Linked DNA regions of Homo sapiens. The protein of the gene in region 2 purifies or fractionates together with the protein of the main gene of each other region. This does not show direct contact. Each region holds a gene or a part of one and is shown on either strand. Other genes may lie near its edges. The genes, in order: POC1A, RASSF8, CREB3L2, PLEKHA5, UACA, NLN and ZNF639.

Region 1 (4,436 bases), on a different chromosome or scaffold from region 2:
TTTTCCCATCAGAGCCTCACAAAGCCATGAGGAAGGCCTATTGCCACCCCCTTTACAGAAAGGAACCACAGCATGTGCTCCTGACCACTGTCCTGCCTCGTCGCCTTCCACTCCCATCTCTCCCTGTCCAAGTCCTCCCTCCTCTGCACCTGCCCACGTTCCCCAGGCAGCTGGGCAGATGTGCCCCATCCCCAAGCCCCAGCCCTTCACTCAGGCCTGGCCCAGAGCAGAAGGCTGAAGGAAGGATAGGAAAGATATGGGCTCCAAGTGGAGGCAAGCCCCACTGCTCTTCTGTTCCAGAAGCCTCTGTCTGAAAGAGCATTGGTAACAAACCTCAGGGCTTCCTATGGAGGGGGGTGGGGTGGGGGAACAGGTTCTTGTGGCTGGCCCCTGCCACCTGGTGGTGCTGTAGGGTACTACAGGCCTTAACCAACCAGGTTGGCCTCACCAGCCCAGACAGGACCAAGACAGTGTCATTGTCATCATCACTAACATTGTACCTCCTTCCCCCCATTTTGTGCCAGCCACCCTCTCAATTCTTGATATGAAACAACTCATTAAACCTCCCAACACCTCCTGTGAGACAGGCCCCATCATTGTCCCAGAGGCCCCACAGAGTCAAATGACCTGCCCAATATCACACAGCCAGGAATGCTTTAAAAGCCAGCTGCAGAGCCCACTCTCCACCATGTGCTGTTCAAGATTAGGATCTTCTCCCCATTCTGGGAAGGTGTGCTCACCTCTGTTACCCCAAAGAAAGTGCTGTACTTGAACACCAGGAGTCAGCTAGGAAGGGTGTGTGTGTGTCAGGGGTGGGTGGGGTCGGAACCCCACACCTGTGTCCAGCCATGTCCTTCCCATTTCAGGTGTGGCTTAAGGAAGCGAGCCCAAGAACTTTAAGCTTAGTCCCAGGTTAACAACCACGGTTCTTCAAACAACTCCAGCTCTGCCTCCTTCCTGGTCTCGGCCCTGGTCCAGTCTTGCTCATCTCTGTTTTGCCAGCTACACAATTCCCAGTTTCTCCAATGACCCCTCACCAGCTCCCTTCCCTGAGCCCATCCCTGGAACTGGGGCGCCTCATGGCCCTGCCCACTCATACTTGCTCTCAGGCCAGTTCCCTACCCAGTACTCTCAGCGAACTCATCCTGGGCATGTCTAAGTCTGCCCTCGCCCTCCAACTCCCACCTGGAGCCTGACATGAGCCCATGCCCACTGCCCGCCACCCTGCCTTCCAAGGGCTACCATCCTGGGCCTGGCCCCTAGCTAAGTCAACCCTCCCTATGACTCTACATCTGCGGAGGACACTGTAAGACCAGAGGTGGCCACGGTCCCACCAATGCTGGCCTCTACTGACAGCCCTGTTCCCTTTACCACAGGTCAAGGGCTGTCACCTTGGCCCTGGAGGGCAGAGCCTCCATCACCAGGAAAGGCAAGTGGCATGCCCCTGAGAAGTGGTCCTCAAGGGAAGCCCTGACCAGAGCCCCAGTGAGGACTCCCCATCTGGCCCTGCAGTATGTGTGAGATTCTGCCACTTCGGAGGTGAGCATTGACTGGCTCAGTGGAAGCCAGGTAGCACCAGGCTCCATCTCCTGGCCAAGGTTCCAAGCCAGGCCAGCCATGCCACAGACTCCCACCCCTGGAATCCCAACAAACCCAGGACACCTTCCTGCCCAAGGCCATCTCAGACCCATTTAAGCACTACAGCACAGGACAACATCCAACACCATCACAGTCCCACCAGGGCTGCCCTTGGGCCCAGGAGGCTGTTCACCACTCACACTGATAATGCTGCAGCAGCCGGTGAGTCCGCACGTCCCACACCTTCACTGTGTTGTCCATGCCGGCAGCGGCAATGCACGTCCCACTGGGGTGGAAGTCCACATAGGTGACAAAGCTGGAAAGACAGGGGCCACTATGCACTATAGGAGGTCTGCCCTGGTTCAGGACGGACCCAGAAACATTTGGTGCTTTCCCCATCCCTGTGTCCTGCCCACGCTGTTCCCTTGACCCAGACACCTCCTTTCTGTCACACTTGTTTACCAGGTGGCCAAGGGAGAGCAAGAAGAAGTAAAAGGTGAGAACAGTGGCCAGCAACAAACTAAGGTGGACTGACCAGGGAGCACATCCCACCGCCAATTTTCAATACAAGTTGAGAGAGCTATCTTCAAACCCAAAAGTTAGCCAGGCTCCCCTGGGATTTTCAAAGTTGGAGCTGGTACCCTTCCCAGGGGTGGCTGCAGGGCAGATCCTGCCAGCTGAGGCACAGGTGGGAAGGTCCAGCAGGACTACAGGGCCATTGGCCCACCCCTTTCTAGGAGACAGGCCAAGGACCCTCACCACACCCATATGTGATACCCAGGCTGGTACCATGTCCACCTCTCAAGGAGAAGCCCTTGTGGCTCCCAGCCCAACAAAGAAGGGCAGAAGCTGGGGTCTCTACTCAAATGTAGGCACCTCTCTCTCCTGATGATGTGGCACAATATGAACAGCCACCATCTGCTACAAGAACCCAACAAGAATTTTGTAAAGCCATCATCATGGATAACATACCAAGAGGCTTTAAAATGTAGTTTGGGCGACTGAGTGTCAACTGCTGCCAGACAGACATGTTGTAATCCTGACAACCAGAAAGTGAAGGAGAAAAAGAGGAGCACAAATAATTACACAGCTCCAAAGAATTGCATGGCTTGAGGTTAAGCACTCCTGCTATTTGTGGGATGGGGCCAAAGCTTCCATCCACACAGCAAAAGATACAATGCTAGGTTGCCAGACCTCGCAAAAAGCACCAGACAAGGGGCAGCAGTGATAAGGCTGCTGGTCCCACGGCTCCAGCCACTGAAGGCCACTGGGCCTCCTCATGCCCAGGTCTGTGCTCTGTGCTTGAGCGCCTACAGGTGGAGGACAGCATCTGGGGACTCACCCGCCATGCTCACAATACGAGTGGACACATTCCCGGCTGCTCTTGTCCCACAGCTTAACAGTCTTGTCATCACTGGCAGACACGATGAGCCGCCCGTCGGGGGAGAACCTGAACCGGGTGGGGCACAAGTCACATCACAGACTAACAGACGACATGGGCACCACACACCTTCTTCCACAGCCACTCTTCCCCGAGTGCCTACTATCTGCCTGCAGGAACCACCCGGGGTCACATGCCCTGCTGTGATTTTTTTTTTTTTAATTTGAATACCCTAATTTGTCTTTTCAGGAACAAATGCATTGCATCCTAGGAGGCAATGTTACTTCTGTTTATTTGGTCATATCTTAAATTATACTTTGTTTCTGAAAATAGTTAACTTTTAGCACATCATTTTTCTTTTTTCCTTCTGAAGAGTTTTTCAGGAAACTGTGACTAAATTTTGTTTTTGTTTTTGTTTTGTTTTTTAGACAGGGTATTGCTCTGTCACCCAGGCTGGAGTGCAGTGGTGTGATCTCAGCTCACTGCAGCCTCTACCTCCTGGGCTCAAGAGATCCTCCCACCTAAGCCTCCTGAGCAGCTGGGACTACAGGCGTGCACCACCACACCCAGCTAATTTTATTTTATTTTATTTTATTGTAGAGATGGGAGTCTCACTATGTTGCCCAGGCTGGTCCTCTAACTCCTGGAGTCAAAGGATCCTCCCACCTCATCCACCCAAAGTGCTAGGATTACAGACATGCACCTTCAAGCTCGGCCTATGACTTAATTTTAAATGTTATAAAAATGTTTCCTTTATTTTTTTCTTCCTGAATCTGTGAAACTTATTGATCTTTCCTGTTGCTCTTGTTTTCGTTTTCTTACGTAGCTTCATGAGCAAATAGCCCCTCTCCCATCCCAACAGCAAACTCTGACCAAAAGGGAAAAAGAGAAATTCTTCCTGACTTAGAGGAAAACCAAACATAAATAAACAAAAAGAAAAGAAAAAAAAAAAGGTGCCTGCCTCACGAGTGAGCACAGAGCAGCCTCATGCACATAAAGCCCCAGCACTGCCCCTGACGCACAGCACATGGCAACATGCAGCCGACTGCCTGCCGGCAACATTTGCATAAAGGTGGCCAAAAGCTCACCATCAGTGTCATTACTCTGGGACCAGGTCCTCCGAGTCTACATTTGACTCAAGTGCGGGTCAGCAAGACACAATCTGCCAACAAAAGGCATGAGGTCCTGGGGACTGCCACCAAAGGCCCAGTATGGACTTGACACCCCAGTTTGCTGGCCTGGCCCCTCCTGATCTCAGGACCCTAGTCATAAAGCCTCTAAGAGCCATCAGGGGTCTCCCAGGACAAAGGAATGGGGGTGCCCTGGAGAACAGTAACTTGTATGGGGTCCCCAGAAGAACACAGCTCAATAGTCCCCAACTTCTGACTCATGTGGTTTCCTAATGTCACCTGGCACCCCAACCCCTTCCTCTGAAGCAAAGATATTTGACCCATGGGGAAGCTCTGTTGAAAGGAAT
Region 2 (5,028 bases):
GTCAGCTACTCAGTCAGATCCTGAATCCTGGTCCAACGATAACCACACTCTTGCCTGCTACCTGCTTCAAGAAGTACACAAAAGAGGGATCACTACCACAGCCAAAGAAAGGAGGAAAGTTTTTTTTTTTTTTTTTTTTTTTTTTTTGAGATGGAGTTTCGCTCTTGTTGCCCAGGCTGGGGTGCAATGGCGTGATCTCGGCTCACTGCAACCTCTGCCTCCCAGGTTCAAGCGATTCTCCTGCCTCAGCCTCCCAGTTGCTGGGATTGCAGGCATGTGCCACCATGCCCGGCTAATTTTGTATTTTTAGTAGAGACGGGGTTTCTCCATGTTGGTCAGGCTGGTCTCGAACTCCCAACCTCAGGCAATCTGCCAGCCTTGGCCTCCCAAAGTGCTGGGGTTATAGGCATGAGCCACCGCGCCCGGCCAAAAGGCAGAAAGTTCTAAGAAGGAGAGGTCAACATTGGCAAATGCCACAAAGGGCACAAGATGGGAATTAAATTTTTCCATTAGATTTGGCAATTAAGCAATGGCTGATGTTGTTCAGTGGAGTGAAAGGCTGAGAAGGGAATGAGAGGTTAGGAAACATTCACCTTAAGGCTAGGCAACTCCTTTGAAAAGAGTCAAGTAGGGTTAAGGGAGGATCCATGCCCTCCAGGTTGACTTTTAAATCATATTCCCTTTGGTTTTGCATTTGAATCACAGTGAACTTTCTCCTCTCCAAATGTTGATTTGACAAATTTGAGTCTTACCATGGCTCTCTTCTCAGTCCACCTGCAGGTCAAGGAACTAATGAGGTGTGGAGTAACTAAAGGTCAAAAAACAAGAGGAAGAAACAAAGGGCCAAAAAACCCCAAACCTTAAATCAGGTCCTGAGTCAGATACGCTGTAACAAATTCTGCTTCAAGTTTAATATTCTTGTTTTGATGATGTTTAAAAAAAGAAAAATAAAAGCAAGTGTCTGGAAAATTAAAAGGCGGGGTGGGGGGGGGCATTTTAATTGGAATGCTTTCTTGTATCTCATCCACTATCCGCACCCCATCGCCCTGCAAATTAATAGCTGTTGCGGAGTTGGGGTATGTGTGACCACAAAATCCAAAGGCTGAATTTTGCCCAGTGCCTGAGTAATTGCATGCCACACACAAAAAAACAGTAGAATATTGAAAACAACATACACATCTGTATTTCCATATGAAAGCACCCGTTTCCTTTCTTGATTATCTGCTATTTTTAAAGGGGTTGGGAGTGCAGCGGGGCGGGGGGATGAGGCGTTTTTTCTGAATACGAGCCCAGCTCTTTCTAAACTTTTGTTACTCACGTCCGTTTGATTCATTTGCTGTGTTTTTTCTTTCTTTCTTTTTTTTTTTCCCCTCTCCTGCCTCTGTCATTGCCTGCTGCTAAGAGGGACGCTGAATCACAGCCACTGCAGATGAAAAGCAATTCAAACCCAGTCCTTGGAGGGGGGATGGAACGGCTCTTTTTGATTTTTTTCCCCTCTGCAGAAAAAGCCTCCTACTTTCCGGGTGACCGTAGAGGGCAGTTTGACAAGTCTCAGCCCCGGGCGATGGAAGATTTTGCCCGTGGGACCGTCACGAGCCACCGGTCATCTCCCCGCGCCCGGCTTTCGGGTCCTCAGGCCTCGGTGCGTCGCGGGCCAGGCGACAGCGGGGGGGCGTCGCGGGCCGGGCGAGCGTGGCCCGGTGGGCCCGAGGGTCGCGCCGAGCTCCCCGCCGCTTTAAAAGCTCCCACAATGCAGCGCTGGCGTCCCAGTTCCGTTACGAGGTCTCTCCCGGCGCCGGCGAGCGGGCCAGGCGCGGGCGGGGCGCGGAGGAGCGGCGGCTGAAACCCGAGCGCCCGGCCGAGGGGGGCGCCCCCGCGCCGCTCCTCTCGCGCGCTCAGCCGCTGCCCGGCGAAGGGGCGGAGCCGCCTGGCCGCCCGGCCCGGCCCGGCCCGGCCCGGCCCCCAGCCCGGCCCCCAGCCCAGAGGCACCGGCCGCGGGAGCGAGCGGGTCGCCGACTCCTACGCCCGCGCTCCTCCTACGCCCGCGCTCGTCCGGCGCCCCGCGCCGCGCCCCGCTCAGCGTCTGCCGCCCAGCTCCTCGCCCAGCCTCGCCGAGCCTCGCCCTTCCCGCCCGCGGCGGCGTTGGCGCTGGGGGCGGCTCCCGCGGCGTCTCTGCCGCTGGCCGAGCGCTCGCGCACCGCGGCACCCCCGCCAGTGGCGTCCACACTCACCTAGCGCGGGCCGGGAGGTGCGCGGAGAGGGAACGCCGGGGGGCCGGGGCCTCCAGCCGGTGCGGGGCGCGCGGCGCGGGGAGCGCCGGGGAGTGCCGGGGAGTGCGGCGCGGGGACGGGCGCTGGGCGGCCGCGGAGCTCCGGGTGCCGCCGCGTCCCCAGCGCCCCGGCCGGCCCCTCTGGGCGGCCTGCGGGGGCGGCGCAGTTGCGAAACTGAGTAAGTATTAACTTTACTTAGCGGCGGCGATCCGGGCTGCGCCGGGGACCCCGCCCGTCCCGCCTGCAGCCTCGGAGCTGCCCTCCGCCCGGTTGCCCCTCTCTCCGCACCTTGGGTACCTCGTCCGTTCCGCCCCCACCCTGCCCCGCCGCGGGCTCCCGCTCCCTCTGCGTTCACCTTTCCTGGTGTGTCACCCTTTGCGCCTCTCCTCGCGGCACACAAGCCGCGGACTGAAAAGTACGAGCTTGGTCTTTGCTTTTCTGCTTCCTCCCAGTGTCCTTGGCAAGGGAGTTTAGAGGCCACTTTTCTTGCAAAGGGAATTTTATGTCTGGTTTTTAAAATATTTTTTCCTCCGGATGGAAATCGGATGCTCGCTTGCCGGGTGGCGGTTTGGTGAACGCTTTTCTCCTCTAAAAAAATATTGGTTTATAGGTTTTTAAATTTCATTTGAACTATTAACCATCTGCATTCTATTCTCCTTTGCCGCCAGTCCCTTTGGGGAGGGGAGTCCAGAAGAGGGGACGTTCAAAGTAATTCTGACTTGCAAACTAGAAAGTTTGAGAGGGTAAATCGCACAAAGCCGGAAGATTCAACTTGAAGGGACGCGAGCTTTGAATGTGGGTCCTGGTGCGGCACTGGGTTTTAAAAGATGAGTACTTGGGTTCGGAATCCAGTGTTGCGTTGTTATTTTAGCATCATAGAGCCGCCTGGTGTTGCTAAACCACTACTTTCCCAGCCTCAAATGGCATCTTGAACAGTGCAACGTAGGATATATAATTGCGGGTCAATATTGTTGCTGATCTTTAGGGATTTAGAAGCGAAATGAATGCAAATCACGTCTCATAGCTGACTTAAACCTGTCAGGTTAGCCCTGTCAGGTTAGCATTAAAGCATTTCATTAAAAAAAAAAATCCTCTAGCCCTGTGACAGCAGGGACGAACATTTATGGATTTTCCAGTAGATTGTGGCTCAGCAATTCATTAGATCTGCTTTGTCCCCAGGAAGCATTTTAAAATATGTATAAATCTCTGCTTTTCTCTCCATTAGATTAACCACTCATTCTGGTAGGGGGCCCCAGGTAGTTTTTATTTTCTTTTTTGCCTTTCATCTTGGAGTTGCCAGGAGTTGCCATCATGTTATGAAGGAACAGAAAATGAGAAGCTTTCTTAATGGGTTTTCGACATCCTGTCCTTTGCCAGAGTGAGGCGGTAGTGAATGCCAGCCAGCTTTCTGCAGGGAGAGGTGCAGGGTGGACGCAAAAATCAGGACGCAGGAGACAGCACTATCATTTGGGGAAGTGGTTTGTGTGAGTTTTATCTTTTAGCGGGCATACTAATGGTACTTTTAATTTTATTTATCTCTATGAGGCACACTCCCCAAACCATAAAATTACACATGACCATCCCCCACTTGAAGAAGACTGAACATAGTTTGATGATTATTCTATTCAAGGATCAAGTACAACAAAATATAATTTGTAATACAGATGATAAAACCTTTCAAAAATCTCCCCCTTCCTCATTTTTTTCCTCAAGAGTCTCCAGGTGGTACTTTCTGTGATGGACACAATTGGCAGTAATGCACTGAGTTCTTTCTAGGTTTATTGATCAAATCTTATGTCTGGGCTTTAGTAGCTTAGGGGTGCATTAGAGGGCCCTGAGAGGGAGCAAATCATGGGGCTGTGCAGGCAGGAAAGGCACTTCACTTTGCAGAAGTGTCAGTGTGCTTCTGGAAAAAACAGTTACAAAGAACAGAGAGTGTTTAAGTTGTTTATAGGATGCATGTTTCCTGAATTTGGCATTTGGTTCAGATATTTGGTAATTACAGATTTAAAATTCGACATGGTTGTATAATTTGTTTTGCCTTTTATTTATTTTTTTAAGGTTGCAACCTTTTAACCTGAATCTTCAGTGTTTGGCTCTTGTAGGCTTCTATACGTGGTGACTTACGTCAGTTTTTGACCTGACTGCCTTGTGTTTTGAGAAATGATTAGTTCTTCAGGGTTTCTGACTCATTAATTGATCTGTTTTATGTTGATGTATATAATGACTTGGAAGTAAAAATATTGTTTGCCGTGGGATATTGTTGTCTTTTTCTTATGGTTAATTCCTGGCATAATGGCTTTGCTCCTTTATTATAAAACATTAAGATCTTAGATATCTTGCTAGTGTTCAAAACATTACAAAACTCTTTGCAAGTAAAAGTGGAGTGGGAATGGGAGTTGGATAGAAAAACATGCATCATAAATTAAAGATTTGGATTACAAAATAATATAACGTTTATTTACTCTTCTTTGATGCTAACTTGCTCTAACCCTAAATAGACTTAAAAATTCAAAGTGTAGAGAGAGTTTCCAAGTATTCTGTATAGTGGAAAGAATGTTTACCCCACTGCCAGCCAGACTTGGGTTGCACGTGTGACTTTGTCACTCCCGAGGTGAGTGAGCTCGGCCATGCCACTTCAGCCTCTGTGATCTACAGTTGCATTTCTGGAAAATGGGGATACCACTACTTAAAGGGATGCTATGGTGAGTAGAACATCTAATATATATTAGATGTGCCTGGCACATTTCAGCCAATA
Region 3 (4,436 bases), on a different chromosome or scaffold from region 2:
CGAGACCAGCCTGGCCAACATGGTGAAACCCTGTCTCCATTAAAAATACAAAAAAATGGCAGGCGCAGTGGCTCTAGCCTGTAATCCCAGCACTTTGGGAGGCCAAGGCGGGTAGATCACCTGAGGTCAGGAGTTCAAGACCAGCCTGGGCAACATGGTAAAACCCCGTCTACTAAAAATACAAAAATTAGCTGGGCGCGGTGGTGCATGCTTGTAATCCCAGCTAATTGGGAGGCTGAGGCAAGAGAATCGCTTGAGTCCGGGAGGCAGAGGTTGCAGTGAGCTGACATTGTGCCACTGCACTCCAGCCTAGGTGACAGAGAGAGACTCCATCTCAAAACAAAAAACAAAAAACAAAAAAATTAGCCGGGCATGGTGGCACACGTCTGTGGTTCCAGATGCTTGGGAGGCTGAGGTAGGAGAATCACTTGAACCTGGGAGGCAGAGGTTGCAGTGAGCCGAGATCATGCCACTACACTCCAGCCTGGGTGACAGAGTGAGACTCTGTATGAAAAAAAAAAAAAAGAAAGAAAGAAAAGAAAAGAAAACAATGGACACTGAGTGAAGAGCCAGGCCAGAACATGTGGCTCACAAACCATCAGTGTGGTCTCAGATAAATGAGTTTAACTCCTGGACCTCTGCTGGCTGAAGTACATATATAAAATAAGACAGCTGGCTTGGTCATACATCAACTTGCTGCTGGTTCCGCACATGGATAGAGTGACACTAAGCTCTTGTCTTCCTTCCCTCTTTGCCCCCTCCCTCCTGGTAGGCCTGTGCCTCAGCCATCCCCCTGGTTTTCATCAGGCCTGCTCAGCACTGAGGGGCCCAGGGGTAGGAGACTACTGAGTCCAAATATAGACCAGCAAACTGCAGAAGTTTTGTGATCACAAAACCCTACCAAGAAAAAAAAAAATTAACCAAGCACTTGCAATGTATTTGTATCTTATATATATATAATATATATATATGCTGTATTTTATATAGATACATAGAGTACATATATATGTCTACTAGAGGAAACTATTGTATATATCATACACCCAAAATTTAAAAGGCTGAGTTAAAAAAAAAAAAAAAAAACTAGATGGAAATTCTAATAGCTTCCTCCCACCCGTAAATGTATCATCGTGGGCACCAAAGAGGTAGATACTGATCTGGGAGTCTGCTGGCCTCAAGAGGGATGGGATGGGCTGGAGGAAGAGAGGGGCACGTGGTGAGGGTGCTCCTCCCAGGGCTTAGGGAAGGGAAGGGCTGGGCCTTGGTCTCCACCATGGGATGGGGTAGTGCTGGCCGTTGGGAAGGCAGGGAAAGGGATGCTGACTCGATTCTGCTCGTCTCTGCTCTAGAAGTGCCTAGATTTGAAGAGCTCACCTTATTCTTGATCTTCCTCCGAATTTTCTTCAGGGCCTTCTCCTCTGATTTTGACAGGGGCAATTTGGTGGGGATGGGATAGCCCTCAGCGATCAGGGTCCTCTTCTCCTCCTCTGTCAGGACCAGAGGGCCTGATCCCTGCAGTTTCTGTGCAGACCAAGGAGCAGAAAAGGGTCAAAGAAAAAGAACTGGGACCACTGAAGAATCACCTCCCAATGGGATGATGAGAATCTGTTACAATGTCTTACAGAAGGCTCTGAGACAAGGATGCCCCATCTGCTTTGGGTGACAGATGGGTATTTTGAAGGGCATGGGAAGATGGGGAAGACACCCCCATGTGAGTGTTATAACCTAGGGATTATAATTCAAGGGAAAGAATAAAGAAGCCTCCACCCATTATTTCCCGGGAAGCACCCTACTCGCTAAAACATGAAAAGAAAAAGCAGAGAAGTCATTTCCCACATCCCTAGAGATTTCCTGGCCTTGGAGTGATGAAGGATTCATTTGCAGCCCTGCTTTGTGCAAGAATTTTGTTGTTCTCCTTCTGAAAATGCAGTTTTATAAGGTGCTCTCTACACAACAGGAGTCAATTCTCTCCTCCACTTTTAGCTAAGAGTGCAGAGCACCCAGGGACACATCTGCAGACTCTTTCCACAGAAGCCTCTGGCTTCAGCAGTCTCAGAATGTCCATCAACAATGAAGACAAGAACAGTAGCACATCTCATGGAACCCACAGTAGAATGGCATGTTTATAATTAATCAAACAGAGTCCCTATTGCATTTTAGCTCCATACTAAATGCCATGGAGGACTCAAAACAAACCCTACCTCTCAAGCAGCTTGTGATCAAGACTGTGAGACTGAACTGATACCCATGAAAGGATAAGAGTAATTAAATGCTAAACTGTAATCTTAGCTGATATGGTTTGGCTCTGTGTCCCCACCCAAATCTCATTTTATAGCTCCCATAATTCCCACGTGTTGTGGGAGGGACCCAGTGGGAGATGACTGAATTATGGGGTGAGTCTTTCCCATGCTGCTTTTGTGAGAGTGAATGAATCTCACAAGATCTGATGGTTTTAAAAAACAGGAGTTGCACTGCACAAGCTCTCTCTTTGCCTGCTGCCATCCATGTAAGACATGACTTGCTCCTCCTCGCCTTCCACCATGATTGTGAGGTTTCCCTAGCCACGTGGAACTGTAAGTCCAATTAAACCTCTTTCTCTTGTAAATTGCCCAATCTCGGGTATGTCTTTATCAGCAGCATGAAAATGGACTAATACATTAGCTAAAGGTGTACTAAAAATTTGAAGTAAGAGAACACTACTATGAGTTGTGTGATCAGGAAACGTTTAGGGCAGGAGATGAGATTTGAATTGGGCCTCCTGAAAGAAAGGGGATGATTTACATAAGAGAGAGGAGTGCATTCTAAGCAAAAGGCAGTATTTTGAAAAGTCACTGAAGAAGCCACTGCCTAGTGTGGGTAAGGAGTTCTTGAAGCAGCGGAGGGTTGGATACCTGATAATGAGTAAAGGTGTCAGGGCTTGGTACCAACAAGTAACAGGGAAATACAACATAGTTGTTGGGCAAGCATCCGACATGGGGAAGAGTTCCTCCATAAACATGTAGAATGGACAGATCATAGTAGTACACACAGGTATATAGGATACAAGCTATTCTAGTAATCCAAGGAGTGAAGTCAGGTTCAAGGTGAAAAGGTGAAGAAAGAGTGGAAGGGTGAATTCCCTTGTCCTCAGTAACGATGAAATTTAAGAATGTGGTTGCAGATCTAGAACTTTCAGGGACAGAATCAATACAAATTTTCAAAGTTATGTTAATTAATGGACGGATGGTACTTACAGAATTTTAAAACATCTCATTTCATTTAAATTTTCTAGTTGTGAGATTGTGAATTCAAAATAGCTGATTATAATTTTTAAAATTTCATAGAAATCAATTCACTCCTAGAACAATAAGGAGTTAACGATCTATTCTTCTTTATTATGGTGTCCTCATGTATGGGAGGGATGAACGAGGGGTCTTGATGTCTGATCTGAGTTTCTGGGTTAAGAGTCATATGACACACAGAAAAGGCTTAAACTGTTTTTGACCTTTAGGCATCAAAGAAATTAATCTCAGAGTAATTTTTAAGTTCACCAAAAATTGCTTCTTTAAAATATAAAAGGTATTTCCTATGACATAGGTCACAAGGACCATTAAATTAATGCAAATATTTATGATAGAACTTTGAGGAGAAAAACCCCAAATTTTTATTCCTCATGTCTATAGCTCTGTAAAATAAACATATGAATAAAAACTGGAAGTGTGCATGTGAAAAGGAAGAGAATTGTGGTAGTAAAAGGTGAGATGTGCGGGCAGTTCCTAGAAAGTGTTCTTTAGGGTTGACATCACTCTGCTTTCGCCATTAAGCAGAAACTTCTTGACAAAAGTAAAAACCAAACAGCCTTGAGTGGTCCTGCTCTGGATACAGCCCCAGGGGAATGAATGGAGAGGGTTCCCTTTGGTCCAGGAATGCCCGCTGCATACTTACATGAGGAGCCGTGAGGAGAGGGGAGCTGGAGAGGGCGGAGGGGGCCCGGGGTGCAGCTCTGGAGGGGCTGTGGGTCTGAGGCAGGCTGAAGGGGTGCAGGCGTGGGTTGGGACTCAGGCTGCCCTCTGAGTCACTGCCGTGACTGCTCGGAGGGGTGGGCGGCAAATGCAGGTGGTCCACTGGGGCTGCAAAAAAGGAAGCACATCTCATCCATCCCAGAGCCACAAAGCAGGACACAACTGATTTGTGGCATAGCAAACTAAAGTGTGAGGGGCCTCCATGAGCTGACCTGGACAGATCTCCAAGGTGCAGAGCGTGGATATGGGAGTCCTCCTTTTGTATGAAAAAGGAGAGAAAGAGGATATAGACCCACATTTGCTTATACTGGCAGAAAGAAACACTGGAAGTGAATACAAGAAACCAATAAACGTGCGACCAGGGGCCAGGCAAGGTGGCTCATGGCTGTAATCCCAGCACTTTGGGAGGCTGAGGTGGGCAGATCACCTGAGGTC
Region 4 (4,020 bases), 6.6 Mb from region 2:
GTAAGAATGTTATGCCTTTTTCTGCATTTTCTTTCTCACAGCATCTACCATATCTAGTAAGTTTGGTGCTTTAGGATTACCACCATTTTCTGCTGAACAGCAGCAGAAACATATAGAGACATTATAAGCATTAGTACTAACATCTTTTTGTTTTTTTATTTTCTTGTTTTTTTTATGTTATTTCTTTTTTCAGAGATGTCCCCCATGCTGGAGTGTAGTGGCATAATCACAGCTCACTGCAGCCTTGACCTCCTGGGCTCAAGCAGTCGTCCTGCCTCAGCCTCACAAGTAGCTGGGATCACAAGTGCACGCCACCACACTCGGCTGATATTTCGATTTTCTTATAGAGACAGTCTTACTAAGTTGTCCACGCTGGTCTCAAACTCCTGAATTCAAGCTACCCTCCCACTGCATGAGCCACTGTGCCTAGCCTCTTTGATTTTCACATTCTCAAAATATTTCTTTTATTTTCTCTCCTTTTTTTTTTTTTTTCGAGGCAAGGTCTTACTCTGTCACCCAGGCTGGAGTGCAGTGGTGCAAGATCATGGCTCAATGGCTCACTGAAGGCTGACCTCCCAGGCTCAAGCAATCCTCCCACCTCAGCCCCCTGAGTAGCTGGGACTACAGGTGTATGCCACCATGCCAGGCTAATTGTTTTGCAGAGATGGAGTTTTCACCATGTTGCCCAGGCTGATCTCAAGCTCCTGAGCTCAAGTGATCTGTCCGCCTCAGCCTCCCAAAGTGCTGAGATTACAGGTGTGAGCCACCACACCCAGCCTTTTTTCTTCCTTTTCAAGCATTTTTTAAATTTCACTAGCTTTGGGTACAAGTGGTTTTGGGTTACATGGAAGAATTGTATAGTGGTGAAGTCTGAGATTTTAGTGCACCCATTACCCGAGTAGTGTATGTTGTACCCAATCCTTCACCGACCTTCCACCCTCTCCCTTCTGAGTCTCCAAAGTCCATTATACCACACTGTATGCCTTTGCATACCCATAGTGTAGCTCCAACTTATAAGTGAGAACATATGATATTTGGTTTTCCTTTCCTGAGTTACTTTACTTAGAATAATGGCCTCCAGCTCCATCCAAGTTGCTGCAAAATACATTATTTTGTTCCTTTTTATTGCTGAGTAGTATTCCATGGTGTATATAAACCACATTTTCTTTATCCACTCCTTGGTTGGTGGACTCTTAGGTTGGTTCCATACCCTTGGAGTTGCAAATTGTGCTGCTATAAACATGCATGTGCATGTATCTTTTTTATGTAATGACTTGTTTTCTTTTGGGTCGATACTCAGTAGTGGGATTGCTGGATCAAATGCTGGATCTACTTTTAGTTCTTTAAGGAATCTCCACACTGTTTTCCGTAGTGGTTGTACTAGTTTACATTCCCACCAGCAGTGTAAAAGTGTTTTCTTCTCACCACATCCATACCAACATCTGTTGTTTTTTGACTTTTAAATTATGGCCATTCTTTTTTTTTGTTTTTGAGATGGAGTCTCGCTCTGTCAGCAGGCTGGAGTGCAGTGGCGTGATCTTGGCTCACTGCAACCTCCTCCTCCAGGGTTCAAGTGATTCTCCTGCCTCAGCCTCCCCCGTAGCTGGGACTACAGGCGTGTGCCACCACACCCAGCTAATTTTTGAATTTTTAGTAGAGATGGGGTTTCACCATGTTGGCCAGTATGGTCTCGATCTCTTGACCTCATGATCCGCCCACCTCGGCCTCCCAAAGTGCTGGCGTGACCCACTGCACCCGGCCAATTATGGCCATTCTTGCAGGAATAAGGAGGCATCTCATTGTTGTGTACCTTCTTTTGAGAAATGCCTATTCGCGTCATTTGCCCACTTTTTGATGGGATTATTTGTTTTTGTTTTTTTTTTCTTGCTGATTTGTTTTGAGTTCCTTCCAGATTCTGGATATTAGTCCTTTGTTGGATGCATAGTTTGCAAATATTTCCTCCCATCCTGTTTTCTGGAATCTACTTCCTTTCACACCTTATTGTAGGAACTATAATCTGTGCCCTTTTTTTCAGCCCAAAGTATTTTGTTGTCTTTTCATATTTGTAACTTTTATTTGAGATTATGTCTACCTGGAACCTCAAAGAGGCTTCTGTTTTTGTCAGTTGGTATCTGTGCAGGACTGAAGTGCTTGCTGGAGAGTTACAAATAACCTAACTGTGATAGTCTTACCTGTGTTCTGCCTTTGTCACTTGTGTTTAAGCCTTTTTTCTTTTTTCTTTTTTCTTTTTTTTTTTTTTGTTGAGACCAGGTCTCACCCTGTCACCCACACTGGAGTGCAATGGTGAGATCTTGGAGCCTTGCCCTCCTGGGCTTAAGTGATCCTCCCACGACAGCCTCCCAAGTAGCTGGGACCACACGCCTGTGCCACCAAGCCTGGCTGATTTTTTTGTATTTTTTGTAGAGTAGGGGTTTCACCGTGTTGCCCAGGCTGGTCTCAAACTCCTGAGCTCAAGCGCTCTGCCCGCCTCAATCTCCCAAAGTGCTGAGATTACAAGATTGAGCCATCACGCCTGGCTATGTTTAAACTTTTAATTTAATATGTTTAGAAATGACTGTTGAGGCCAGGTGCGGTAATGCCAGCACTTTGGGAGGCCAGGGCTGGTGGATCACTTGAGGTCGGGAGTTCAGGACCAGCCTGGCCAACATGGTAAAACCCCATCTCTACTTAAAAATACAAAAATTAGCTGGGCATGGTGTCAGGCGCCTGTAATCCCAGCTACCTGGGAGGCTGAGACAGGAGAATCGCTTGAACCTGGGAGGCAGAGGTTGCAGTGAGCCGAGATCACACCATCGCACTCCGGCCTGGGTGACAGAACAAGACTTTGTCTCAAAAAAAAAAAAAAAAATCTGGGTGTGGTGGCCCACACCTGTAATCCCAGCACTTTGGGAGGCCGAGGCAGGCAGATCACCTGGCTCCTGACCAGCGTGACCAACATGGAGAAACCCAGTCTCTACTAAAATTACAAAATTAGCTGGGCGTGGTGGCACATGCCTGTAATCCCAGCTACTTGGGAGGCTGAGGCAGGAGAATCGCTTGAACCCAGAGGCAGTGGTTGCAGTGAGCCGAGGTCGTGCCATTGCACTCCAGCCTGGGCAACAAGAACGAAACTCTGTCTCAAAAAAAAAAAAAAATGGTGACTGTTGCTACTGGTGACGTAATAACACAAAACATAGGAAAAATAAACATTGGACTCATTTGATTTCATCTATGTAAAGACTTGATGACCTCTTAGTAGAAAAATGTATACATTAAGAGCCATTCACATAATATTTTGATTCAATAAACAGATTATGACTGTACACATATCCTTCCAATAATAAAGGATATTCAGAGTTAAAACTCAAGTATATTTCCAGGTTCCTTAAATTGTTATAGGATTTTATTTTGTTTTCTTCTTATTCCAAGAGCAGTGGCATACTGTAATGAGGTATGATTATTGTCGGATATTTTCTAGTCTCATGGTATGCAACTACCACAAATAACTAAAGGCATGAAAACTTGTATTATTTCATATCTTCCTATTATGCATATGCCATCTTTCTGAACTAGTGGTTTTGGCAGGATTTAGGAAACCTTTACAAATGACACTACGATGTAGGCAGCTCAATAATTATTACGTATTTTAGTGGAGTTATGCAAATGTTTGCTCATTTTGTTGATCTTTTGGATTCAGCTACGTTTGGTACTTTTTTTTTTTTTTTGCAGTTGCAAGATTTAATAGAGTGAAAACAGAGCTCCCCTAAAATGGGAGGGGACCCAAAGGGGGTTGCCGTTGCCAGCGGTACATTTTTTATTCTGTATTGCTATTTATAATCACATTATGTTGGCCGGGCACAGTGGCTCACGGCTGTAATCCCAACACTTTGTGAGGCCGAGGCGGGCGGAACACAAGGTCAGGAGATCGAGACCATTGTGGCCAACATGGTTGAAACTCCGTCTCTACTGAAAATACAAAAATTAGCTGGGCGTGGTGGCATGCACCTGTAGTCTCAGCTA
Region 5 (4,436 bases), on a different chromosome or scaffold from region 2:
TTTCTTAGTTAACTTTATGATGCCAGAAGGCAAGACTATTTCTGATGTCAATTGCTTTTGTTATGTTTCATTAGGACACAGTAGAAAATAATTTCAAATTCCGGAAGTGCATATTATACAAAGTGGAAAGGCTTGTTAGTTTGCTGTATTTTTCATTAGGAGCAACCTCTTCCTCTCATGGCCAATACTAGTGAGTTTCTCAGCCTCTCTAATACAGATTTTCTGCTATTTCCCCACTTGAACTTCCTATTCACTGTCCCTCAATAATCTTCTCTAATAATTGCAATAAACTTTAAGATTCTAGTTTATCTCTGATTTGCTCAAAAGAGAGTAGCTAAGATCCCTTGTTCTATCATATCATTCATTCTTTTTCATTAGTTTCCCCTCCATTTCCTATAGAAGAGGCAGGTCTATTGATTTTAAGAATTTGATATCATAAAGTATCTTTCTTTTTATTATTTTATCTAGTTCTCTTTTTAAAATTGTTCTTTTTTTGAAGCTTTCTCTCAACATCCATCTTTCCCTTCTTCATTTTTTGTTTGTTTTTTTTTTTTTTTTTTTTTTTTTTTGCTTGTTTTTACAGTGTGGCCTAACATACTTCAAATCCAAATAATTCCCAGGATCTCTGTCATTCTAAAATTTGTTTCTTTTAGTACATTTTCTTCCTGAAAAAAAATCTATTCTGAGAATTTTGAAGATGCTGCTCACGGGGTTTCTACAGGAAATTAAGCATAGTATCCTTTATATGTTAGTAATTTCTTAGTATGATTTTAACAATAACTTTCTCAGTACACCCCTAAAAAAGGGAATTCATACTGTTATTCCTTAATTAATCCTTGGCTTTACCAAGCCAAGTTAAGGCTTGGTAAAACAGATCATTTTTAATTACTACAATCCTATACACATAACACCCTGCTTGTCACTTTTGTACTTTTCTAGTATTCAAAGCCATTCCCACTCTCCTCTTAGATGACAGCCACACGTGGATGTCAAGGCATTATCTCCAGCTAGCAACACCATTAACGTGTGCTACCATCACATGTTACCAAACTGTCTATAAACTGAGTGACAAGCAGATGGAGACGACACTAAATTTAAGATGTTGTGTTGCCATATAGCTTTGTAAATTTTTCTGGGAGATCCACAAACAATGATTAAAAGAAACATAATTATTTTTAAATAAGCATAGGGGGTGCAGCTACTTTAAACATCAATTACTTTCACATAAATTTATTTGAAAATAAAAAATTATTATCTCTAAAGCAATATTCTTTCCAAAGGAGAAGTAGTTCTTTACCTGTGCAGCACTAAGAAGGTGTGTCCGATAAATTGCAATTACTTCTTGGTGCTGTCTGTCAGCATCCTAGAAATGTGGAAAGATGGACAGATGTGACTATCAGCGTTCACATTTCCAAACTTTGGACAATGCTCAGGCTTCATGCTACAAAACTATTATTATTATTAAGGCGATCCTGCTACTTCTAACAACAAACTACCTTGGACCTACCAGATGCAGAATTTCAAAACGTAACAATATAAACTTCTGTAAAGAATGTGTGGCTAATGACAGTAATGCTACTTTCCCTAAGCAACATCAAATTATTGCTTTAGTTCATATCTAGTGCCATGAACTTCTGAAGACACTTATCACATGTCTGGATTATTGCAAACGCTTCCCATCCTGTCTTACTATCTCCACACTATATTCCTTACCATGCCTCTGAGACTAAGGTACCTATTTCCTCACATCACTTTTGGCTCAAAAACCTTGAGTGACACTTCTTTACATACATGAGAGAATCCAAATTCATCAGTTTGGTTCTCAATGACTTCCACAGTTTGGCTTCAAACATTAACTTTCAAATACAGCAGTCCCCTCTTATTGGCAGTTTTGCGATGAGCAGTTTCACTTTCTCTATTTCTGTTGCCCATGGTATAATACAATATTTTGAGATATAGAGAGAGACCACATTCACATAACTTTTATTACAACATATTGTTATAATTGTTCTATTTTATTATGTTGTTATTAATCTCTTACTGTGCCCAATTTATAAATTACTCTTTATCACAGGTATGTATATCTGGGGGGAAAACATAGCTTATATAGGGTTCATTCAGCAGGTCCTATCCATGGTTTCAGGCATCCACTGGGGATCTTGGAACATACCCTCAGTGGATAAGAGAGGGACTACTCTACAGGCAGGGCTTTTACTGCCCTCTGGCCATGCCACTTGTATTCCATCTCCACGCTTCTTTTACACTATTTTCTTTAGATGGAAGAGCCTCTACTTTCCTTTCACCTACCAAAATAGCATCTACGTTACAAGTTCAAGCCAGGTACTCCCTTCTTTAAAAACTAGCTTCTACCACACCACTAATCTTTCCTTCCTGGAAACCCCTATCACTTAGAATCTGCATTCTCAGTTCTACATTTGACATCTCTCATCTTGTGATTTTTACTTTTTATGAATCTGTATTTTGCCTCTCTAACTACCCAGAACTCCTTGGGGACAGGAATGGCATACTTTCTTTATCCCACTTAGCACAGGGTCATGAACATAATAAACAATAAACAAATATTTCCAATTATTAAAGGGACACTATACTCTTTGGATAAGATCCAAATCCACAATTTGCCATCCTTAATCTGTAGGCCTACAGTGTTAAAAAATAAACACTAAAAAAGAAACAAAACAAAAAACCTTTCTTCTATTAAAAAATAACTCAAACAATTCTATGAAATAGGGAAACATCAGCAACAATTTACATGTGACTGGGCCGTTTTACTTAGCATTTCAATGTGTATTAGTGCATAATTAAAAGCATAGTCCCAGATACTCAGGAAGCTGAGGCAGTAGGATCACTTGAGCCCAGGAGATCAGCCTATAGCAAGACCCCATTGGAGACAAGCCTAAGCCACATAGAAGACCCCATCTTTTGACAAAATTCAACAACTTTTCATGCTAAAAACTCTCAATAAATTAGGTATTGATGGGACGTATCTCAAAATAATAAGAGCTATCTATGACAAACCCACAGCCAATATCATACTGAATGGGCAAAAACTGGAAGCATTCCCTTTGAAAACTGGCACAAGACAGGGATGCCCTCTCTCGCCACTCCTATTCAACATAGTATTGGAAGTTCTGGCCAGGGCAATCAGGCAGGAGAAGGAAATAAAAGGTATTCAATTAGGAAAAGAGGAAGTCAAATTGTCCCTGTTTGCAGATGACATCATTGTATATCTAGAAAACCCCATCATCTCAGCCCAAAATCTTCTTAAGCTGATAAGCAACTTGAGCAAAGTCTCAGGGTACAAAATCAATGTGCAAAAATCACAAGCATTCTTATACACCAATAACAGACAAACAGAGAGCCAAATCATGAGTGAACTCCCATTCACGATTGCTTCAAAGAGAATAAAATACCTAGGAATCCAACTTACAAGAGATGTGAAGGACCTCTTCATGGCAAACTACAAACCACTGCTCAATGAAATAAAAGAGGATACAAACAAATGGGAGAACATTCCATGCTCATGGGTAGGAAGAATCAATGTCATGAAAATGGCTATACTGCCCAAGGTAATTTATAGATTCAATGCCATCCCCATCAAGCTACCAATGACTTTCTTCACAGAATTGGAAAAAACTACTTTAAAGTTCATATGGAACCAAAAAAGAGCCTGCATCGCCAAGTCAATCCTAAGTCAAAAGAACAAAGCTGGAGGCATCATGCTACCTAACTTCAAACTATACTACAAGGCTACAGTAACCAAAACAGCATGCTACTGGTACCAAAACAGAGATACAGACCAATGGAACAGAACAGAGCCCTCAGAAATAATGCCACATATCTACAACTATCTGATCTTTGACAAACCTGACAAAAACAAGAAATGGGGAAACCATTCCCTATTTAATAAATGGTGCTGGGAAAACTGGCTAGCCATACGCAGAAAGCTGAAACTGGATCCCTTCCTTACACCTTATACAAAAATTAATTCAAGATGGATTAAAGACTTAAATGTTATACCTAAAACCATAAAAACCCTAGAAGAAAACCTAGGCAATACCATTCAGGACATAGGCATGGGCAAGGACTTCATGTCTAAAACACCAAAAGCAATGGCAACAAAAGCCAAAATTGACAAATGGGATCTAATTAAACTAAAGAGCTTCTGCACAGCAAAAGAAACTACCATCAGAGTGAACAGGCAACCTACAGAATGGGAGAACATTTTTGCAATCCACTCATCTGACAAAGGGCTAATATCCAGAATCTACAATGAACTCAAACACATTTACAAGAAAAAAACAACCCCATCAACAAGTGGGCGAAGGATATGAACAGACACTTCTCAAAAGAAGACATTTATGCAGCCAAAAGACACATGAAAAAATGCTCATCATCACTGGCCGTCAGAGAAATGC
Region 6 (4,226 bases), on a different chromosome or scaffold from region 2:
CTGTCAATTTATAACCACTTGCACAAAAGTGGCAAAGTGAACATTTTCATCTCTTTTTTATAAGCCCTTTAACTACCAGATCTAAGAAACTCCTGGATATACCAGATATAGAACACCATTTGGTCCCACTCCTGAAATGCTGAAAAGAGAAAAGCAATTATTTTGTTAAAAATAGAAGCCTGCGGTGGCAGGTGGCGTGGTAACTATGTAAAATTTTGTGGCACCACAGTCAAATTGTATAGTGGAGTCAACCAGGGTTGAGGGGAAAACACAGAAAAGTTTTGGATACATGCCTTTCTATTATAATTTATCCCAATAAATTATGAACTCATTTGCCTTCTCCACTCCACTGTGAGCAGCTCCAGTTCTGGGGTGTCTTTTTGTATCCTCATTGCCAAGCACAGCGCCTGACACATAATGGGCACGTTAGAGTCTTTGAAATGAATTCAAAAAACAAATGTTTGAAAGCACATTTTTAAAGACAGTAGTTCTTAATTTCTTCTGATTAAAGCTAAGGACTCTATCCCTAGAAAAATGCAGGTATCCATGCACACGAACATATCTAATATAATTTCAGGGCAATCATGGGACATCTGCTTGCTCTGCCCTTTTCATAGACCCCCCAAGAAAACCAGATGAACAAATTCCGAGGTTTCAATACATAATCATAGGGAGAAGCTGAGAAGCTTTAGAAACGTTCTCCATTGCCAATTTTTTTCTTTTCTTTTTTTTTTTTTTTACAAAAAACATGTTTCTTTCATTTACCTCATGCAGAAACTCTCAGTACACTAAGAAAGGACTCTCATGTAGAAATCTGCCCCCCGCAGGTGTAGAAATAACTTATCCACATAGTTTTAGGTTTAGTTACAAATTAGGTATTTTGCAGTTACCATAGAAAAAGGCATCTTTATAACAAAAGATAATTTTAAAGAAGGTATATTTATTTAACAAACATGTATGAACTATTCATTAACAATCCAGGACTGTGGAGGACAGGGGACAGAAACAAGCCTCGAAGAGATCACAATATGGTGGAGTGCATGCATGGCACACCTGGCTATCTGAATCAGACGTTTGCCTCTGTGTGTGTGATGAAGACAGTAGTGAGTGGAATGGACAGAGAGTAACTGTAAATTCTGTAGGGAGGAAAACGAACGTTTACTCATTCTCTAACAGTCTTTTGCTTTACTATGGTCATATACAACAGTTAATCTCCCATCCTCAGTTCCCAGATACCCACCAGAAAACCGGTAATTAACCTCTGGATAAACTTTCACTGATTACAGATGAGGAGCGAGGCAACCTTAAGCCATAAACAATATTCCTACAGTATGGGGGAGCCGCAATCATCTGAATGCCAGTTTTCAGAGCCAGCCTGTGAACGTTTCATCTGAGGGATGTTTTCCCGATGATCATCTTATCATTATCGCATCTTAAAAGCTGGAGAAGCCCTAAAAGCCGGTTTGGCACAAATGTCAACTCAAGGGAGGAATGCCCTCTGTAACACTCCTGGCAGCTACAGGCTTTCCACAGCAGCGGAATGTATTTTTAACCAACAAAAAGTATTAGAAACAGCTTCCTCGTACTGAACTAAATCCTCCTCATATTTTCCAACCGTTTCTCTAATGGAATTTAATTGTTTCCATTTGGTTTCTGAAGCAATACAGAATTAGCCTATTCTCTCTCCCATTTCCTTCAAGAATTTGAAAACAATTATCATCTGTATTTCTGAATTATCTCCAGACTGAACTTCCCTAATTCTTTTTTATTTTTCTTTTGAGAAGTATTTTCAAAGTTATCACCATCTTGTTACTGCTCCTGCAAACACTGTACTACTTGGCCAAAGTCTGCTTAAAATGTGATATCTAGAAAGGAACACAATATTCCAACAGTAATTGATCTTACACTGGAGTCCGGGGGGATTATTCTTTTGATCTAGGCACATACTTCCATCAACACATTCTTAAAAAGCCTTAGTTCTCGCCTCCCGTCCCCCTCCCCCGGTGTGCTGTACCATGAGCTGATATTGGAATTTGGCCAAATAAAACTGCCAACTCTTTTTTCCTGAATACTACTATCAAGTCAGGCTTCCCCTTCTTTTACCTGGGTAATGGAATGTGTCTAATTTCATTTTGAGCTTGTCTCCACATTGAAATATTTTTAAACATTATTATTTTTTTACTTTTGAGACAAGAGTTTCACTCTGTTGCCCAGGCTGGAATGAAGCGGCACAATGTCGGCTCACTGCAACCTCCACCTCCGGGGTTCAAATGATTCTTCTGCCTCAGCCTCCTGAGTAGCTGGGAGTACAGGCATGTGCCACAACACCTGGCTAATTTTTGTATTCTTTAGTAGAGACGGGTTTCGCCATGTTGGCCAAGCTGGTCTTGAACTCCTGAACTCAGGTGATCCACCCATCTTGGCATCCCAAAGTGCTGAGATTACAGGCGTGACCCACCTTGCCCGGCCAAAATAATTTTAGATGTTAATAACATCATCATACTTAATAATTCCAGCCCTATTATCTGTACATTTGATACCTTTTTATGGGACTTTTTTTTCATTTTTAGCCAAATGACTTGAAATTACTCCCAGTTTAACGTTAATCATCATGCAACTATCTCAGACTGTTTCAATAGCTAGTAATCCACCTGGATAACTATTATCCAGTCACATTCTCCATCTTAGCCACAAAGATATCAACAGCAATGCGTGTCTTGCTGGACGCAATGAACAAACTATTTCTAGCCAGTTTCTCTCATGACAAATGCTAGAGACATTTTATCATAGGAGTACAATTGAGGTGAGCCTCTGGGGTCTATGAAATATGCAGCTAGTACAGGTTCCAGCTCATGTGAGCAGAATAAGGGAGTCTATTTCCTGTTCACCCCTTCCCCTTGTACGTACATCGTGGACTAGATGTGTTGAACCTGTATTTTCTCAGGAAAGGGAACTACAAGGTGAATTCAACCAAATCAAAACTCAGGAATCACGGTGTGGTGTGGGGGTGTGTGCATCGCTGTGTACATTACCTCAATTTTTCAAATTTTGTTTTGTTACAGACGTACAGCATTATTGTGTTTGTTAAAAAAGGCTATTTTGGTCTAATATTTACATCTTATAACCTTTACCTTTTGCCTTGATACAGCTGATACTAGATAATCACTTAGGTGGATCTGTTTCCAGTGGGAAATTTCTCTATTAAAGGTGACTCAAAAAATAAACTTTTTGGACGTTGACTGTTTTTCGAAGAACTGAGGGTATGTATGTCTTTCCTTTTCCTTTTTTTTTTATTTTATTTTAAGACAGGGTCTCTGTCACCCAGGCTGGAGTGCAGTGGCGTGATTATGGCTCATGGCAGCCTTGACCTTCTTGGGCTCAAGCAATCCTCCCACCTCAGCCTCCCAAGTAGCTGGGACTACAGGCATGTGCCACCATCCCTAGCTAATTTTTTTAGTTTTTGTAGAGACAGGGTCTCACTGTGTTGCTCAGGCTGGTCTCAAACTCTTGAGCACAAAGGATCCTCCTGCCTCAACCTTCCAAAGTGTTAGGATTACAGGTGTGAGCCACCACATTCATTTCTTTGTTGCTTTTATTCTCACCACACATTTATAAGAGAAGGCATGTTCAATTTCAGTGGGCTATCCAATTTCAGATGGGAGACATCTAACTGTAATGTGTTGATTTGAGGGAAGAAGCTGTGGTCACTGCATCTATTCAAATAAAATGGATTTTCTCTTTTAACATTCTTTGGGGGCTCAGTTAACTATGTTTAAACCCTATTTGAGGAATCAGTATTCGTTATGGACTGAATGTTTGTGCCCCATCCCCTACATTGAAGCCGTAACAGCCAATGTGATGGGGTTAGGGGGTGGGGCCTTTGTTGGGGGTGACTGGGTTTAGATAAAGTCATGAGGAAGGAACTCTCATGATGGGATTCCTGCTCTCGTAAAAAGAGACACTCTAGGGCTTGCTCCCTGCCACTGCTGCCTGCAGAAGTTTCTAAACCCTTTATGTTCCACATCTGCCTCCTGTCTCTTCCCATGGCTCTCTACAGAGCTATTTGTAACATGTCTACCTGACACTTTTGGGGATGTGGTCAGTAAAAGAGGAAGAGGGGCCTCACCACGAACCAAATTTACCAGCATGTGGATTGTGGGACTTCCCAGCTTCCAGAACTGTAAGAAATGTCTGCTTTTGAAGCCACCCAGTCTGATATTTTGTTA
Region 7 (3,962 bases), on a different chromosome or scaffold from region 2:
CACTTTGGGAGACTGAGGCAGGTGGATCACCTGAGGTCAGGAATTTGAGACCAGCCTGGCCAACGTGGTGAAACCCCGTTTCTACTAAAAATACAAAATTAGCCTGGCATGGTGGCTGACGCCTGTTAACCCCAGCTACTTGGGAAGCTGAGGCAGCAGAATCACTTGAACCTGGGAGGCGGAGGTTGCAATGAGCTGAGATCGCGCCACTGTACTCCAGCCTGGGCGACAAGAGTGAAATTCTGTCTCAAAAAATTAAAAAAGCAAAAAAAAAAAAAAAAAGAGGAAATTTGGGGGACAGACTTGCACACAGGGAGAACACCATGTGAACATGAGGCTATCCATCTACAAGCCAAGGACAGACCTGAAACAGATCCTTCCCCCACAACCCTCAGAAGGAACCAACTGCCAATAACTCCATTTTGAATGTCTGGCCTTCACAACTGTGAGACCATAAATTTCTGCTAGGTAGGCAACTCAGTTTGTAGTAATTTGTTATGGCAGCCATACGAACTAATATTGATGCTAATTTATCATTTTATTAATAAATGTTGTAAGTTATACATTTTCATGCCAGCAACCCCTATCTCCCAGATCTTCCTAACTTTAAATACTTCAGTGGGTTTTCTGTCAATGAACAATTTGACATCAGAAATTTGGGCAAGAGTCAGGCATAATGGCTCATGCCTATAATCCCAGTGATTTGGAAGGCCAAGGTGGGAGGATTGCTTGAGTCCAGGAGTTTGAGACTGGCCTGGGCAACATAGCGAGATCTCATCTCTACAAGAAATTTAAAAACTTAGCGGGCATGGTGCCACATGCCTGTAGTCCTAGCTATGCAGGAGGGTGAAGTGGGAGGATTGCTCGAGCCTGGGAGACTACAGCCCGGGAGCTATGATCAACCACTGCACTCCATCCTGGACAACAGAACGAGACCATCTCTAAGAAAAAAATATTAAGTCTGTGAATGAATTTATGGTTCCTCAACAGAAAATGAAACATCAAGTTATGAATGAGTTATGATATAGTTATTTTTTATTGTGTAAGCCCTTATTAGTTCCTCCCTCATCCCATCTTAAAATATTCAACAATAGATAGTGGCTCAAAAATTTTTTTTTAAAAAAACAGACTGCCATGAAAACCAAATCTTTTCTTCCTGTAATAGTGGCTTCCTAGTGTTATTTCTCATTAATGGGAGTATCCGTGGACTTAACTGTATATTGCATTTTAGTTCTGGTCGTGTAATAATTTAATGACTTCACACATAAAAAACTAATCTTGTCTTGAGTTTTAAAAAGTTACTAGCACCCATGGTTAAGGAAGGAAAACTGTAGCTCACTTCTTCAATACATTTGTTTCTTTTCAATTCATGAAATCAGAGAATATGGAAGAAACAGGATGACAGTCACCAAGAGTGGTTGAAACTACAAACTATCACGCAATTGAAAATACCACATTAAAGATATATTTATATACAGAAAATGGAGCAATGCCAATAAAATTTTATAATTTAAAAAAGTTACTTGTTAAAGGCAGATTTCATAAGTTGTGTTTACAATCATCCATTTAATCATCTCCAAAAAAAGGATGAATTTATTATTTTAAACTAACATTCTGTAAGTTAAAGAGAATAATCAAGTTGTCTCATGGACTGGAAGGTGACTTATTAATTCCCTTTCATTTCCAAACCTCATCAAGCAGTCACTACATTTATGAGGCAAGTCAGCTGAATGCTTGAAATCTAGATGAATTTTAAGATCTTCAATTTGTCCTGTTGAATATTCACAATATTGACATAAATAAATCCCTTCAGATAAATGTGAATTTAAATGCTTGCAATATTCTAGCATACTTGAAAAGCCTTTCCCACAGTCATCACAAACATGAGGAAAAATTTTTGTATGTTCAATAGCAACATGCCTGTTAACATTTGTGTGAAGTCTACTCCGAAAACCACATACTTGACATACAAAGAAGTTTTTACATTTGTCAAAGGTAATTTTGCTTAAGAGGCTATACTGTCCATGTTCACCATTGTTATACTTATCACTTAACTCTATTAATTTACATGCATGCTCATTTACCACATGGCTATGCAAGTCTTCTGGATCATTAGTTTCATGTTCACAGAACTGACACAAGTACTGTTCATCACAGCTGTGCTCCTGGAAATGTAGGTAGAGTTCACTGCTTGAGGAGAACTGTACATCACACTGTTCACACCAATAGAGGTGATCACTAAAATGGGTGTCTGCAATGTGCTGGCTGAGGTTCTCAAAAATTACTGTCTTATAATCACAGTATTTACAAATGTAGGGATCCTCTTCATGCAGTTTGGCATGTTCTATCAGAAGCATATTGGTAGAGAAACTTTCCTTGCATACTCGACACACATTTGAATCAGTACGTTTATGCTTCAGGATCATATGCTGCTTTAAGTCAGAAAAATATTTGCTGTTAAACTCACAAAGTTCACATTTATAGAGGCCACTGCTATTAGCTCTCAGTAAAGGCCATTTCTGCTGGGCAGTCACATTCAAAGCTTGGCTCTTGTCAAGAATTTTACAAAGTTTAGCTGGCGGTTCTTCATCAGTTTGGTCTTGGAGACTCTCAGAGGAATTGTTTTCTGTCTCTATATCATAATCCTCAGAAATCGCATGCACTTCTACAGCAATTGGAACATCTTCAGCAGTGTGAACTTCTATAGGACTCTCCTCTTGGGTTTGCTGGTTGACTGATTCAGGTGAGTCACACTCTTCATCACAAATTACAATATCAGCAGATTTTTCTGAAGAATAAAACAAACCTATTATATGACTATAACTAAATAAGATCTGTTAAATACAACTGGGCAAAAAAAAATTTATTGCATGCACTTTTTTTAAAATTCACCAATACAAAATATATCAATGCTATAAATTAGTTCCCCCAACCTGTAGAAAAGGCAGTGTGGTCTAGAATTCTAAGTACAGGACTGGGAACCAGGTAGTTCTGATTTCTGTTTCTGGCCTTGATTCCATCTGCAAATTTTGGCAAGTCATTTGACGTCTCGGTATCAGAATCATCATCTGTAAAAAGGGATTTGGAAGAATACTTATTATTTATACAATCAAAGCATTAATTATAGAACAAAGCATCAATTTTTAAATATGATTTTGAATTCCAACAGGAACTAAGGACTTGGATTTAGTCATAAAAAGATAAGTTATCTATATACCTCAGACACAGAAAATCTGCTCAAACAAGCAAATGCTTTAGAATTGATGCCCCATTTGGACTAGATTACACTTTTTGAAGTTCCTTAGGATTTTAAGTTTAAATTACTGAGTTTGAATAAGCCTTTATACCCTCAGGCCAGCCCCAGTGTTTCAAAGTTAGCATGGGGAAACTGAAATACAGGTTAATAGTGAAAACTGGGCTTCAACATTTTGCGAGGGACCAAGTTTTGCTCAGTCTGCCAAGGCTGGAGTACACTGGCATGATCATGGCTCACTCACTGCAGCCTCAAACTCCTGGGCTCAAGTGATCCTTCAGCCTCAGCCTCCTGAGTAGATAGGACTACAGACATGCACCACCAAGCCCGGGTAATTCTTGTTTTTTGAGATGGGGTCTTGCTATGTTGTCCAGGCTGGCCTTGAACTCCTGGCCTCAAGCGATCCTCCCACCTTGGCCTCCCAAAGACCTGGGATTACAGGCGTGAGCCACCACACTCAGCCCATCCATCATGTTTTCTTAAAATAGACCTTATTTTTTAGAATAGTTTTAGAATTACAGAAAAATCTGAGAGGATAGTATGGAGAGGTCCCATGTATCCCAGTTTCTCCACTACTAACATCTAACATTAGTGTGGCACATTTGTTACAATTAATGACCAATACTGGTAACTTATTAATAAAAGTCAATAAAGTCATCTAAATGCCCTTAGTTTTTAACCTAATGTCCCTTTTCTGTTCCAGGATACC

Evidence for each region.
Region 1: the proteins of RASSF8 (region 2) and POC1A purify together in Homo sapiens (affinity purification with mass spectrometry; 4 studies listed by BioGRID and IntAct, with this or other methods). This does not show direct contact.
Region 3: the proteins of RASSF8 (region 2) and CREB3L2 purify together in Homo sapiens (co-immunoprecipitation; one large-scale study listed by IntAct). This does not show direct contact.
Region 4: the proteins of RASSF8 (region 2) and PLEKHA5 purify together in Homo sapiens (co-immunoprecipitation; one large-scale study listed by IntAct). This does not show direct contact.
Region 5: the proteins of RASSF8 (region 2) and UACA purify together in Homo sapiens (co-immunoprecipitation; one large-scale study listed by IntAct). This does not show direct contact.
Region 6: the proteins of RASSF8 (region 2) and NLN purify together in Homo sapiens (affinity purification with mass spectrometry; one large-scale study listed by BioGRID and IntAct). This does not show direct contact.
Region 7: the proteins of RASSF8 (region 2) and ZNF639 purify together in Homo sapiens (affinity purification with mass spectrometry; 3 studies listed by BioGRID and IntAct, with this or other methods). This does not show direct contact.

Annotation. Positions count from the first base shown.
Region 1 is NC_000003.12:52,144,068-52,148,503, forward strand, and holds part of POC1A (POC1 centriolar protein homolog A), read right to left. Parts: intron 3,029-4,436; coding exon 2,921-3,028; intron 1,895-2,920; coding exon 1,779-1,894; intron 1-1,778.
Region 2 is NC_000012.12:25,956,701-25,961,728, forward strand, and holds the start of RASSF8 (ras association domain-containing protein 8), read left to right. Parts: upstream 1-1,981; 5' UTR 1,982-2,448; intron 2,449-2,625; exon of another isoform or gene 2,626-2,742; intron 2,743-5,028.
Region 3 is NC_000007.14:137,904,328-137,908,763, forward strand, and holds part of CREB3L2 (cyclic AMP-responsive element-binding protein 3-like protein 2), read right to left. Parts: intron 4,110-4,436; coding exon 3,925-4,109; intron 1,522-3,924; coding exon 1,375-1,521; intron 1-1,374. UniProt on the Homo sapiens protein: Transcription factor involved in unfolded protein response (UPR).
Region 4 is NC_000012.12:19,370,529-19,374,548, forward strand, and holds part of PLEKHA5 (pleckstrin homology domain-containing family A member 5), read left to right. Parts: intron 1-193; exon of another isoform or gene 194-3,155; intron 3,156-4,020.
Region 5 is NC_000015.10:70,658,854-70,663,289, forward strand, and holds part of UACA (uveal autoantigen with coiled-coil domains and ankyrin repeats), read right to left. Parts: intron 1,364-4,436; coding exon 1,298-1,363; intron 1-1,297. UniProt on the Homo sapiens protein: Regulates APAF1 expression and plays an important role in the regulation of stress-induced apoptosis. Promotes apoptosis by regulating three pathways, apoptosome up-regulation, LGALS3/galectin-3 down-regulation and NF-kappa-B inactivation.
Region 6 is NC_000005.10:65,825,978-65,830,203, reverse strand, and holds the end of NLN (neurolysin, mitochondrial), read right to left. Parts: 3' UTR 921-4,226; downstream 1-920. UniProt on the Homo sapiens protein: Hydrolyzes oligopeptides such as neurotensin, bradykinin and dynorphin A. Acts as a regulator of cannabinoid signaling pathway by mediating degradation of hemopressin, an antagonist peptide of the cannabinoid receptor CNR1.
Region 7 is NC_000003.12:179,332,095-179,336,056, reverse strand, and holds part of ZNF639 (zinc finger protein 639), read right to left. Parts: intron 3,069-3,962; coding exon 2,934-3,068; intron 2,789-2,933; coding exon 1,635-2,788; 3' UTR 1-1,634. UniProt on the Homo sapiens protein: Binds DNA and may function as a transcriptional repressor.